Homo sapiens: one gene and its partner. The protein of the gene in region 1 interacts with the protein of each later gene in a biochemical or structural test. Each region holds a gene or a part of one and is shown on either strand. Other genes may lie near its edges.

What was found. The genes of interacting proteins can lie anywhere in the genome.
Region 2: the proteins of LGALS9 (region 1) and RNF13 form a complex in vitro, tested with the Homo sapiens proteins (one study listed by BioGRID).

What each region holds. Positions count from the first base shown.
Region 1 is NC_000017.11:27,641,168-27,648,196, reverse strand, and holds part of LGALS9 (galectin-9), read right to left. Parts: intron 5,960-7,029; coding exon 5,849-5,959; intron 4,673-5,848; coding exon 4,577-4,672; intron 4,365-4,576; coding exon of another isoform or gene 4,239-4,364; exon of another isoform or gene 4,162-4,238; intron 2,884-4,161; coding exon 2,848-2,883; intron 2,337-2,847; coding exon 2,286-2,336; intron 1,651-2,285; coding exon 1,609-1,650; intron 1,168-1,608; coding exon 1,079-1,167; intron 928-1,078; coding exon 765-927; intron 1-764. UniProt on the Homo sapiens protein: Binds galactosides. Has high affinity for the Forssman pentasaccharide. Ligand for HAVCR2/TIM3. Binding to HAVCR2 induces T-helper type 1 lymphocyte (Th1) death.
Region 2 is NC_000003.12:149,816,197-149,823,225, reverse strand, and holds part of RNF13 (E3 ubiquitin-protein ligase RNF13 isoform 1 precursor), read right to left. Parts: intron 5,940-7,029; exon of another isoform or gene 653-5,939; intron 1-652. UniProt on the Homo sapiens protein: E3 ubiquitin-protein ligase that regulates cell proliferation. Involved in apoptosis regulation. Mediates ER stress-induced activation of JNK signaling pathway and apoptosis by promoting ERN1 activation and splicing of XBP1 mRNA.

The DNA of each region.
Region 1 (7,029 bases):
TTCCATGGCTGCAAAGCCCTACATCAGTCATTTTCAACTCTGACTGCAGAGTATAATCACTTAAGGCATATTTTTAAAATACGAATGCCCAGCTGACTGCCTCATTGGCCTGGGCTGGGGTCCCAGCACTGATATTTCCTTTGTAAGCTCTCTGGGTGATTTGAATATGTAGTCAGGGTGGAGCACGCCTGCCTGCTGTTCCTGGACAGGCCACACCCGTGCCTCTGCACGTTGGCCCTAGCTGCCCCTCCCAGGCTCGCTCTATCTCATCGCTCTGTTTTGCTTTGTGCGTGGCACTGTCGTTATCTGTGACAATCTGTCCATGCTTTACTTTCCTTGTTCTTTCCCCACCTAAATTATAAACTCCCTGGAGGCAGGACCCTGTCTGTGTGCTTCATGACTGTGCCCCCAGCATGTGGGGTGCTTCCTGCGCAAAGCAGGCGACAAGAAAATGGTTGTTGAGTAAATGAAGAAATGAATAACACCTCCTTCTTGGGTCTGATTTGACACTTACTGACTGTGTGACCACAAGCAAGTAACCTGCACTTGTGAGTTTGTTTCCTCATCTGAAAAAGCAGATCCCAGCACTTCCTTCATGCGGGACAGTAATAATAATAATAATTTGTTGGCCACCTTCTCTTCTTTTGGGCCTTCATCCCAGAGGAATCAGCCCCCATACTGTTCAAGGTACCTCAAACCTCCTTTACCCCCTCCCCCTGTGCACCCATGGGAGCCTCTCCAAGCTCCAGACTGCGGTGCCTTACTGAGAAGCTCTGGCCACGGACGAAGGGCATTTTTCGGGGCAGACTTCGCTCCTCAGACCCCCAGGAGTTGTCGATCTGGGTGTTGCGGACCACAGCATTCTCATCAAAACGGGGGTTCAGGTGGAAGGCGATGTGGTTCCCAGAGCACAGGTTGATGTGGAACCTGGGGTGGGCAGCCCACCTGAACCTTTATCCACCGAATTCTGAGTCCCATTTCCTCCCCATCATCAGTAGCCTTCCTGAAGCCAGGGGAATGGCTGGACTGACCTTGAAGGGCTCTCTCTTCCCAGAGGTCACTGGAGCCCTTGGCTTACCTCTGAGCACTGGGCAGGACAGTGCCTGACAGGAGGATGGACTTGGATGGGTACAGCCCTCCCAGAATGGTGGTGATGAAAGGCATCGGCTGTCGGAAGAAGGGGGACAGGTCAGCCACCACGCGGAAGGGGAAGATTGTACCAGTTCCCATGAATTTGGGCTGTCAGCTGAGAAGAAGCCCATGATATCTTTACTTGGTTCCATAAAAGCCAAAGGAAAACTTTCCAGTGCTCCTCAAATTAATGGGCTTAGATTAGTGTCATGAAAGGAACTTTGGCCAAACACAAAAAGACTCGTTTCGTGGGGTGAAAAGGGAGGGACATGCAATGTGCTCATATTGACACGACAGTTTTAAGGTTGAAAGCTCCTCTCCACAGCCTTCTAATTCGCTGGGATGCTTTGAAGCCCTTCAGCTTAACAAATGACTGCTTTTAATTTTTCAAGGCCAGTGGATCCCCCCACAGCGGCCCTTCACCCCCAGCCTGCCCACCACAAACAGAACCTCTGCCCTCCCTGAGAAACCACTTACATAGGCGGGGTGGGGGTACATCATAGGTGGGATGGCGGGAGTCTGTTGAAAAGAAACCAGGAAATTCAATGGGAGAGCACATGGGTGCGCGAGCACTCACCCAGGCGCACCCACGCGTTCTAGAGAGGACTCCACTGTGAGGCTGACCTCGTGAGCCTTTGGCCCTTGGACTCGCCCGTCTACCTCCCTTTTCATGTTAGCCTTCCTGGAACTTCCTGCCGTGTTCCCAGACCACACCACGGTCACCTGCCCCTCAACCCCTCCGCAGGCAGCCCCACTAATTCTAAGCCCCCCTGCCTCATTTGCACCATCAGGAGAAGAGCTTAAGCCTGTGATCAATAGTGACATCCTGGGGACCCAGGATGCAGGGCCAGGAACCTCACATCCGGGTGCTGGGGCCACTGTACTCCCCACTTGGTGACAGATGGACCAGTTTCCCTCCCGGTCTCTAGGGGACTTGTCTCTTCCACCACTGGATAAACCCTGCTTCTTCCAGAATCTCTGCTGTCCCAAGGACAGCTTTAGCCACATGTCACCTGAGCCAAGCACTCAGCCCCTAGTGTCCCCATCCTCCTTGCTAAACCGCTTTCTTCCCGACTCTAGGGCTCTAGGGAGTTTAGTTTTTGGTGAAGGAGGACACTGTGCAGCTGTGAACTGACCAGAACTTGTAGACTTACAGAGAACATCTGTCCAGGGGCGCTCTGCACTGTGTGGATGACTGTCTGGGTCTGGAAGAAAGAAACCAGGTCTCACCCAGGCTCTCACGTGTGAAAACCACCAGCTCCCACCAGAGGGCGCCACACGGCAGGCACCCTCCAGGGGGCGTAACAAGCCCAATGGCCCCACAGACCCCACAGAGGGTGGGCCCAGGTGTCTCTTCTCTCAAGGGGATGAGCGAGGGGCAAAGGTTAGAACCCTGGAGAAGACAGATGGGGACGCTGGTGGCTCTGGCCCATCTTTCCTCTCGGGGAAACGTCTCTCAGCCTAGCCTCCCTTTGCAGGTGACAGAAGTGAATGTGGGGCATGGTCTTCCGTGGCTGCCCACGGGGTGGCAACTCAGGTTGTTTCATCCAACCCCCACATCCAACCCCCAACCTCACCAGGCCGGGCAGATGGTCAAGGGTCTGGTCTGTGCCCTCCCCACTCCCAATGGGAGAGGCCCAATGCCTGGCCCTGCCTCCTCCATGAGCCCAGAAAAGCCAAAATGAGGACGATCCAAAAAGAAAGCAAGAGACTTACAATGGGAGCCGGGTTGGCAGGCCACACGCCGGGAGGCTGGAGGGGTGAGGAGAGTCAGAATGGTGGTTATCGCGGGCACCACAGAATGGGAGGAGATGGTGGCAAAACTCCAGGGAGGCTCTTGTGCTCAGAAATGCCTCCCCGGACACACCCACCTCCCTCTTGCTCCCAAGCAAGCCTTCCTGAGCCCGTGGCACCCAGATTTTTACCCCCAGGTGTACAGGGCTTTGGGGTTGGGGGGTAGGGTATCCCCACTGGTTCCTCTCGAGAGAGAGGAGACTGGGTTTGATAGAGACCTCATTGCTTTCTGTAGCTCCCACAGCGAAGAGCATTACTTCCAGTGCCATATTTCACCCATAAGGTGAGAAGTGGTATTTGTTGAAGGCCTATTGTGGGTCGATTCCTGGGCTTCAGTGCTTTCCAACAAGGGAAGCAGCCTCAGCTCCTGTGTCCCTAGTGAGGCAACGAGGCTCAGAAAGATTAAGCAACTTGCCCAAGCTTGCCAAGGTGGAAGGGATCAAATCCAAAGTGGCAGCCAGTTCTGTCTGACTGTATCCAGCACACTTTCTATCCTCCCCAGAGCCAGGGCCAGCGCCAGGGCCAGGGCCAAAGTTGGGCTGCCCTGCAAATGTTCCCTGGGGCTCGACCAGTCCTGAAGTCAGCGTGGCAGGAGGCAGGTGCCCTGTCTGTACGGTGATGAGCCATAAGAAGACTGCGTAGACAAAGCGCCCCTCCTCCCAGTCCCCACTACTTGAGTGGCCGGAGGAAGGGCTGCTCACCTCCTTGTCCTGGATCCTGCCCCACCCAGTAGACTGTTCTTGCCCTGGCTGGTATCCCATTCTCCCTGGCTGTGTGAACCACATTCCACATTCATTCACTGAGTCCCTACTGAGTGCCAGGCACAGTGCAAATGAACAAGCCACAGTCCTGGCCCTCTGGGGCCTCATGGGCATAGGGACATGGGGGTGGAGTAACGGGGACAGACACGCAAATACAGTTACAATGGGGTGCTGTGAACTGGCATGGCACAGATACATACAGACTCTGTGGGGACACCAGGGGAGCGTCCAACAATATTCCAGGCGGGGAGGACTCCCAGAGGAGCGGCACTTAGGCAGAGCATGGAAGGGCAATTAGGCATGTGCTCGAGGCAGGCTGGCAGAGGGTGCTTCCGGGACCAGGGACAGCATATGCAAAAGCATGGTGGCCCAAGAGGGCCTTGAGTGAGCTGCAGAGGCTGCGTGAGCTTCGTGGGTTGGGGGTGAGGCAGGGACGTGGATTGGGGCAGACTGGGGAGGAATTCATATACCCTGCTGGAGAATTTGGGCTTTATTTGAAGGGCTGGGGGCTGTGAAGATTTTTAAGCAGGGAGAGGGTGTGATCACATTTGCTTATAAGAAGGTCACTGTGGCAGTGGTTGGGTGTAGGGGGTGGGGAACTGGACCCCTGTCGTCATGGTGAGGAATCCCAGAGGCCTGGACCACATCGGTGGCTTCAGGAGGGAGACACGTTCGTGCCTTGGAGAGACGTAAAGAAGAGGGAGTGAAGAATCCAGGGTGACCCCCAGGTCCCCAGCTCTGGGTGCCCAGCGGACAGAGACAGGGAACTCTTGGGTGGGCAAGATGCGGCCTGTAGGCCCTGAGTGGCCTGCTGGCTGGGGCCAGCCTCTCAGACCCTCGGTCCTTCCTACTGTCTGCTCGGCCACCCAGGGCCTCTGTGTTGAACTCACTTTTTGTCTGCGCCCCCTGGGCCTGGGTGGGAAACAGACAGGCTGGGAGAACGGCACCGTGGAGAAGGCAGGCTGAACAGGGACTGTGCGGGGGTTCTGTTAAAACAAAAGGCACCGGGCAGTGAGGAGAAGCATTAATAGAGCCAAGGAGAAGCCGAAAGGCAGAGGCAGGGGCAAGAGGGAGAGACCAGGCAGGCAGGGCGATGAGGCAAGGGGGTTAGGGCCCTGCCAAGATGGGATGGGAAAGAGCCAGGCTCTGGTGAGCAGTGCAGGGGTGCGGTCTCCCTCCAGCTCTTCCCTCCCCTACCACCCGCAGGGGAGAGAGTCAGGGAAGGAGGGAATGAGAGATGAGGACCAAAGGGCGAGAAGCCCAGATTTGCTGAGGGCCTACTGTGTGCTTCGCTGATCTCAGGGAGCAGCCTCGAATGCCAAAAGGGTAACAGCAGCTCCCACCCAGCTGCTGGTGCCCTGTGGGAATGTGGGCCCAGCATACCCTAATCTTCCCATTTTTCACATGGTATTGGTATCTCCTGACCTTATTTAGTTTTATTTATTTTATTTTATTATTTAAACAAAGTTTTTTGGAGACAGGGTCTTGCTGTTTTGCCCAGACAGAACTCTAATTCCTGGGCTCAAGCAATTCTCCCACCTCAGCCTCTTGAGTAGCCAGGACTGCAGACCTCCACCACCATACCTGACTCTCCTGACCTTTTAGATGTTGGCAACACATTCAAAGTTGTTAAAACACAGAGGTCAAACAGACCCTGGTGTGGGCCCAGGGGGGCCACTGTGTGACCTCTGATATCTGTCTCCTCACTGAACCACACAACCACCCATGGGGGGCAGGCAATGACCATTCTACAGATGAAGAAACCAAGGCTGAGAGAGGTGAAGTTGCTTGTCTAAGATCCCACAGATGATGAATGGCAGAGCTGGGAATTTGAACTGGATTCAGTTTGGTTCTTGAGCCTGGGCTCTTTCTAGAACAATATGCCCTCCTTACCAGGATGGAAACTGAGGGATGAAGAGAAAGGGGCAGCTGAGGAGTCTGGGAGACCAAGGCAGGTGTTCCGGACAGAGACAGTAACACAGAAGGAGGGGCAGAGTGACAGAGGAGAAGGGGCGGGCAGGTACTGGGACAGGGAAGCAGAGGTTGTCCCCAGAGTGACCTGGGTAGGAGATTGGCTTGGGCCCACCCAGCAGGGCTTAGACACAGCTACGCTGGGCCCTGCATCCCAGCCCCTGGGACCGGTGCCAGGTGGACAGTCTGACCTGGAAGCTGATGTAGGACAGCTGCACAGAGCCATTGACGGAGATGGTGTCCACACGGTGGAAGGGCACGCGGTGGAAGTACTGCACGAAGAGGATCCCGTTCACCATCACCTGCCAGAGGAGAGCACATGTTCTGGGGGAGGCATCCCAGGCTGGGATGGGGACCACCCCTGAGCTCCTGGACCCTCTTTCTAGAAAATGAAGACCTGAGTCTGGTCTTCAGTGTGGGGCCAGTTACAGGAACGTGTGTGTGACCCAAAGTGCATCAACCCGAGTCTCTACCAGGCTCCAGTTGGACTTTTCGTTCTTCTGGTTGTTTCCTGCAGTAGGTTTGTCTTTCTAGTCTTAGCTCACCTGGGGTTTCATTTATTAATTATTTATTTTTCCTTCAACTGTTTTTTTTTGTTTTTTGAGATGGAATGTCAGTCTGTCGCCCAGGCTGGAGTGCAGTGGGTCAAGTGATTCTCGTGCCTCAGCCTCCCGAGTAGCTGGGATTACAGGAGCCCACCACCATACCCAGCTAATTTTTGTATTTTTAGTAGAGATGGGGTTTCACCATGTTGGCCAGGCTGGTCTTGGACTCCTGACCTGAAGCGATCCGCCCTCCTCAGCCTCCCAAAGTGCTGAGATTATAGGCGTGATCTGCCATTTCCATCCCCTTCAACTTTGATTTTAAGTTCCAGGGTGCAAGTACAGGATGTGCAGATTTGTTAACTAGGTAAACGGGTGCCATGGTGGTTTGCTGCAGAGATCAACCCATCACCTTGGTATCAAGCCCAGCATCCATTAGCTAATCTTCCTGATGCTCTCCCTCTCCGACCAGGCCCAAGGGTGTGTTGTTTCCCCCCATTTTGTCCATGTGTTCTCATCGTTCAGCTCCTACTTATAAGTAAGAACATGTGGTGTTTGGTTTTCTGCTCCTGCGTTAGTTTAAGGATAAAGGCTTCCAGCTCCATCCATGTTCCTGCAAAGGACATGATCTCATTCCTTTTTATGGCTGCAGCGGTATTATTTATATATGCATAAAATGCTCATGGGGAGCAGAGGAGAGGTGACCTCAGGTTGCATACTGAACGAATGGGGACATCCTTATCTCAGATAAGCATACTTGGACTGACTTACCCACAGGCTTCTCAAGCCCAGAGACCTACTCTGCTTGCAAGGGTAATTTGCAATGTGCT
Region 2 (7,029 bases), on another chromosome or scaffold:
ATCAACAGCATAAAGTGCTTAAAACAGTGCCTAACACACAGCAAGCACTTTATAAATATTTCCTCTTATTTTTAAGTGTTTTAAGTGTTCAGTTACTTGCCCAGTAATACTTACCTCTTAAATAGTGAAGCTAGGATTCAATTAAAAGTCTGTGTCATGAAATACTGCCCTTCCCAAATCATCCAAGTATTGCATAAATTTGCATTTCTTTAATTACTTATGAGGTTGAAATTGTTCACATTTCTATTCATAATGAAATTTTAAGGCTATTTGGAAACTTCAAGAAAAAACAGAAAAACTAATGTATATTAATGGTAATTTACATATTCAAATTAGCTTCTGTTCTAATTTTATCTTTATTATTCATGGATCTCTGTACCAGACTCTGCGATAAATATGGTTTATCCCTGAGGCTTTCTGTGTAACATCAAAATTAAGTTGCAAAATAATTGTAACTTTGAAAATGAATTACGTATTGACACTTCTCTCCAAACCTAAAGAAAATGAAATGATCTACCTTCTTTAATAATGACCAAATATATGTAACGTGATACCAGAAATGGAATAGCCCAAGTATAGTAAGATAATAGTTCAACACTATGCTAAAAACATATTTCATAGTTTTCACATTCAGGGAAATCAGACATCTTACAGATCAAGTTCTTTAGTGTTCCACTTTCCACTTTCTTATTTACCCACGTGATTCAGCTTGCACATGGAAAAAAGAAAGTAAATGACTGTTAAAGGCAATAAATGTTACACACAAAATCCATTGTGTTTCTACATACCAGCAATGAACTATCCAAAAATTAAATTAAGAAAAACTTCCATGTATAATAGTATCCAAATGAATACAATACCCAGGAATAAATATAACAAAGGAGGTGAGAGACTTGTACACCGAAAACTATAAAACACAAAAACAATGCTGAAGGATATCAAACACACATCCAGGTACTCAAAGACTTAACATTATTAAGATGGCAATACTACCCAAAGCAATCTACAGATTCAATATATTACCTATCAAAATTTCTATGGCCTTTTATGCAGAAATGGAAAAGCTGATTCTCAAATTCATATGGAATTGCAAGGGGCCCTAAACAGGCCAAACAATTTTTAAAAAGAAGAACAAAGCTGGAGAACTCACATTTCCCAATTTCAAAACCTTACCACAAAGCTACAGTAATCAAAACAACATGGCACTGGCATAGTGATAGATATATAGACCAAAGGAGTAGAATTGAGCATCCAAAAATAAACTGATACATCTATAGCCAATTGATTTTAAAGATGCCAAAGACCATTCAATGGCAAAAGAACAGTGTCTTCAACAAGTGGTGCCGGGACAACTATTCACATGCAAGACAATGAAGTTGGAATTTATACCATATACAACAATTAACACAAAATGAATCAGTGACCTAAATATAAGGAGTAAAATTATAAAACTCTTGGAAGAAAACATAGGGTTAATCTTCATGGCCTGGGATTTGGAAATGGATTCTTGATATGACACCAAAAGCATGGGTCAAATAAATAAAATGGACTTCATCAAAATTCAAAACATTTATCTATCAAAGGACATTATCAAAAAATTGAAAAAAAAAATCCACATAATGGAAGAAAACATTTGCACATTATATATTTGATAATGAACAGTCTAGTATCTGGAGTATATAAAAACACAACTCAATACAAAAACACCAACAATGTAGTTTTTTAAAAGGGCAAAGAACTTGAATAGACATTTCTCTAAAGCAGATACACACATGGCCAACAAGCACATGAAAAGATGCTTAAAATCATTAGTAATCTGGGAAACGCAAATCAAAACCACAGTGAGATACCACTTCATACCCATAAGGATGGCAATTATAATTTCTTAAAAACAGAAAATAAGTGTAGGCAAGGATGTAGGGAAATTGGAACCCTCACACATTGCCAGTGGGAATGTAAAATGGTTTAGCTACTGTGGAAAGCAGTTTGGCAGGTCCTCAAAAAGCTAAACAAAATTACCATAAGACCCAGCATTCCATTCTTGGTATATACCCGAAAAAGTGAAAACAGGTTCTCAAATAAATCCTTGGACACAAATATTCACAGCAACATATTCATAATAACTAAAAGGTGGAAACAACCCAAATATCCATCGATGGATAAATGGATAAACAAACTGATATATAGACATGGAAAGGAATATTCTTCTGACATGGAAAGGAATATTCTTCTGCTATGAAAAGGAAAGAAGTACTGATATATGCTACATGTGGGTAAACCTTGAAAACATTTTGCTAAGTGAAAGAAGCCAGGGATAAAAACTCAAATATTGAAAATTCAATTTATATAAAATATCCAGAATAAGTAAATCCATAAAAACAGAAAACAGATGTGGTTGCCATGAGCTAGGGGCATCAGGGAATGACTGCTTAATAGGTATGAGATTTTACTTCAAAGTGATAAAAATGTTTTGAAACTAGACAGAAGTGATGGTTGCACAACACTGCAAAGGTACTAAATGCCACTGAACTATTGCTTTAAAATGGTTAATTACGTGAATTTTTACCTCAATTTTTTTTCCAAAAAAAGCAATTAACATTTATAATCCATGTTGGATAAATGTGGAAATTATAAGCAGCTCTTCCTCTTTGAGGGTCAAAAGAGTAAATGACAAACATAGTAAGTATGCAAATAAAGTATTCTTCAACATTTAATGAGGTGTTTCACATCTAAATAAAGTAGATGTTTCTCCCTCATGACTTCATTCAGAAATATTCATTTATCACCAGCTCCTCACTAGGATTATTTCCCGGTGGAAATTCATTCCCTCTATAAAGTTTACCTGGATATTTCTATCATTAGAAACAGAGCCCGGGCAGGGAGTGGTGACTCACGCCTGTAATCCCAGCACTTTGGGAAGCTGAGGAGGGAGGATTGCTTGGGGCCAGGAGTTTGAGACCATACCAGGTGACAGAAAAAGACGGTCTCTTTAAAAAAACAAAAAAAAAAGAAAGAAAGAAACTGAGCCTGAACTACATTCACTTTCAATCAATTCAAGGTCAACGTATTTCTAACTCCTTAAAAATGATTCTAAGCCAAATTCTTGTAGCTGACCAAGAGCTCTCTTACATCAAAGCGCAAAACATCCCAAAATTTCAGTTTTCTTTTCAGTTTACATTAATGTGGCAATAAACATTTAAATGTTTTAATGTCTGAATATTTCATAATTATTAATATTTAATAATTATTAACTCTATAACCACAAAATTGACAATGTTCCTCAGACTTTATTTCAAAGTTAAAAAGACTGATTTCCTCAGGAAGATCTACATCGTTGAAACAACTAGAAATAACAAATACCTTCCTCAGGGAACACCTTCTCTTAAAAGGAATATAAAGGTAGATATAAAAATGCCTGATTATGTTACTGCCTGCATAAAATTCCTTAACAGATTAAGCAGTTTTCAGAATACAGCTCAGAACTAAACTGTGGTTTAGCACAAAGTTCTTCATAAACTGGCTCGTCTCTGTATATTTAGCTTAGTCCCTTGCCATTCCTCCAGTCTTTTTCTCTGTAACCATGAGCACTTTCTCTTCTCCCAGACTCTCATTATATGCTTCTCTATGCCACCAAAATGCAACACAACTAAATGGTCTGTCACTCCCATTATTCCTTAAGCTCCTTAAAGTTAGGAGCTATACATTTTCTAATTCTGTATACAATACCTAGCATCTAGCACAATATCAGAGGCAAGTGACTGTTGTATAAATTAAAGTATGAAAGTGAGTATTATGATCCATTATTAAGGTCTAAAATACTATGGCTTATTTTTCCTTTACATAATGGCAATGGGGGAAACTATATATTAGGTAATATTTTGCTCTATTTTAAAAAATTACAATGTAATCTTACCGGTAAATAGCATCAACAAATTTTGTAGACATCTTTTCTTAAACATTAGTTTATTAACTAAGAGTATATATTTAGCTTGATGCTTATTCAATGGAAGCTCATGCTTGGCTCTATATTATCTACGTTAGTGAAGTGAAACATTAGTGCAAGAGATATTTTACAAGAAGTCGTAAAAACAGATTTTAACTGGACAATTCCAACTACTTCATTTACAGGTGAGGAAATGAACTGAGAGGTTAAGATATTTATGCAAAATCACCCAGCTAATTAGTGGGAATGTTGGGTGACACCCAGACTCCCATAATGTTGATGCTTTCAGCTACAATATAACTTTATTCCTATTCCAACCTCATAGATAAGCCAGGGGATTCTCTTTTTATTTTTATCTTATTTTATTTTTTTGAGACAGAGTCACGCTCTGTCACCCAGGCTGGAGTACAGTGCCGCGGTCTTGGCTCACTGCAACCTCCGCCTCCCAGGTACAAGCAATTCTCCTGCCTCAGCCTCTCAAGTAACTGGGATTACATGAGCACGCCACCACATCTGGCTAATTTCTGTATTTTAGTACAAATGGGGTTTTACCATGTTGCCCAGGCTGGCCTCGAACTCTGGTCTCAAGTGATCTGCCCACCTCAGCCTCCCAAAGTGCTGGGATTACAGACATGAGCCACAGTGCCCAGCCGGATTCTCTTCTTCTCACCCTCAATCTAGGGGGTATATGGGTCCTTAATACATGCCACATTTAACTGACTCCTTTAATCTTTAAGATGTAGCCTCTGCCTTAACACCTTCTCCCTGTAATAAACATTTGATGAGTACCTACGTTTGTTGAGCATTAAACACATCTAAGCCATTCCACTGGGAGGAAGGGGAAAAGGGAGAGACAAATGCGAATAAGAAAGACATGGTCCCTTCCTTCAAATGCTCTGCAAAATTAGTTACAATCTGGTATAGTATTCATTATTACCATCTGCTTAAATAGGTACAAATACATAGTACGAGAAAAATCTAATTACCGTCTATTATGAAAATGCACCTTATTTCTCCCATTAGCAGATAAGCTCCATGCAGGCAAGGATTTTTCTCTTTAGAACAGTGCCTGACAAAGAAGGTACTCAACAAATATTTGAGTGAATAAATGCTACAGAAAAACCCCTAAGTAGTAGGATCCAAGTAATGTTTCCAAAAATGGTATGACAAGAAAAGTAAACCTTCTTCTCATGCTCAACAACATTTTTCTGTTGGTTTACTGAGAACTTGACAGGAAACTGAAAATAGTTGAGATGGATATATTTTACTACTTAATTCAACATCATGCTCTACCCAATTGTACCAAACCCTAGAAAACCTTCCAAGAAAGGAAACCTACAGTCCTTCTATGACTTAGTCCTGAGCCCTTTTTCAAGTACAAAGGGTCTCCAGATGTTTTCCTTTTTTTCTTATAATAGGTTCTGGGATCTCTGTGTTTGCCCCCCACTTGTGAAGATAATAATACTGGTAACAAAAACATCTCAATTACTATCTATCATGTACCAGACCCTTTTCATATATTAACTCAGTATTTCAAAACAACTCTCAGAATTGGTATTGTCATCAACATGGTTTTACAGAATGGGAAAAATGGTAAGCCTCTTATCCTTTGAGTGTCTTCTTCCACAATCCTGGCTATAAGTAAAATACAATCTCATTAGCTGCACCCTGACTTTCATTGTTGCCCCCCATAACAAGCACACAGAGTCTCTGATTCTAAAGGTTTTGCTATTAACCAATTCAAGGTAACAAAGACAGGATAATAAAAATAACAAATCTGGAGATGTTCAAATGTTCAACAATTCAGCATTCAACATATGTTTATAAATGCCTGGTACCACACAAAAATCAGACTCTCAAAATTCTTACGGTGAGAATCCCTAGCCTCCAATTTACTAGCTATTTTTTGAATAAATGGGAGCCTTGCTAGGTCTAAAAGTTTTTCCTCCCCACTACCTTACCTCCTGATCTCCCAGGACACGAATCAAAATACACTAAAGGGAAAAATAATGGGTGCATCTTCATTGAGAAATCTGTACTTGTGAGTAATTTAAGGAGTCACATCCCTCTTGTGAAACTCTGACCCACAGAGGAGTGGTTACTTTTAGGTCATTTCCTTACAATGTAAGCATTTGTTCTCTTCCCTTTTCATAGAATACACAGAACTTCCAGTTTTCATTCTACATTTCCAAACGTCTGAACAACTCCTCAGCTCCAAAAGTAAACTCCCTATCATCCTCTCTCCTCCTAAATCTCCTTCCACCAAAACCTGTTCTTCATGATAATATCCTTATTTCTGTTAATAACATCACTATCCTCCCAAAAATTTGTCCTAGGCCTATACTCTGGTCAGTTCCCAGTGTCAATGTCATTATAATGTCAACATCTTTCAAATCTATACCTTCACTACGATCATCACTTCTTGCCTCAACTACTATAATTAAATTGCATGGTATTCCTACTTCTAGGCTTCCACTCTTCCATTGGACCTGTTCACAAATTATTATCCATAAAGAGAGTTTCTTCTTAACTAAAAATCATATATAAAATCTTTAGTCTGACATTTAAGAATCTCCATAATCTGTATCCATCTATCTTTACCAGTCTGGTCCTTAAACATATATCCTTACCAAATGTATTCTGCTTTTCCTATCTCTATACCTTTGCTTGGGCAGTGTCCTTATGTGGAACTTTTTTTTTTCCACCCTCCTTCAACTGCTAACAATCTTTCAAATGACCTCATCCTCAATGAAAAAAAAAAAAAGGCTAAGGCATATAATTTACTAAACATATACGCCATCTGATTGCTTCACAAATTATCTGAATCCCCACAAAAACAAGTAAGGAAGGAGTTAAGGAAATTGAGGAGGAGCTTCCCCAAGGTCACCAGCAAGTACGAATCCACAATAGCCCCACAGCATTCCATATTTTTTAATGAAATAAGACACAAAAGAGACAGACGTTCTGTAGTCAGAATACCTGTGATCAAATTCCAGCTACTCCACCAGCTACTTGTGTGAACTCAGAAGTTATGTATCTGTGATGCCTTAATTCCCCCACTTCCCACTTAGAAAATGGGGATAAGA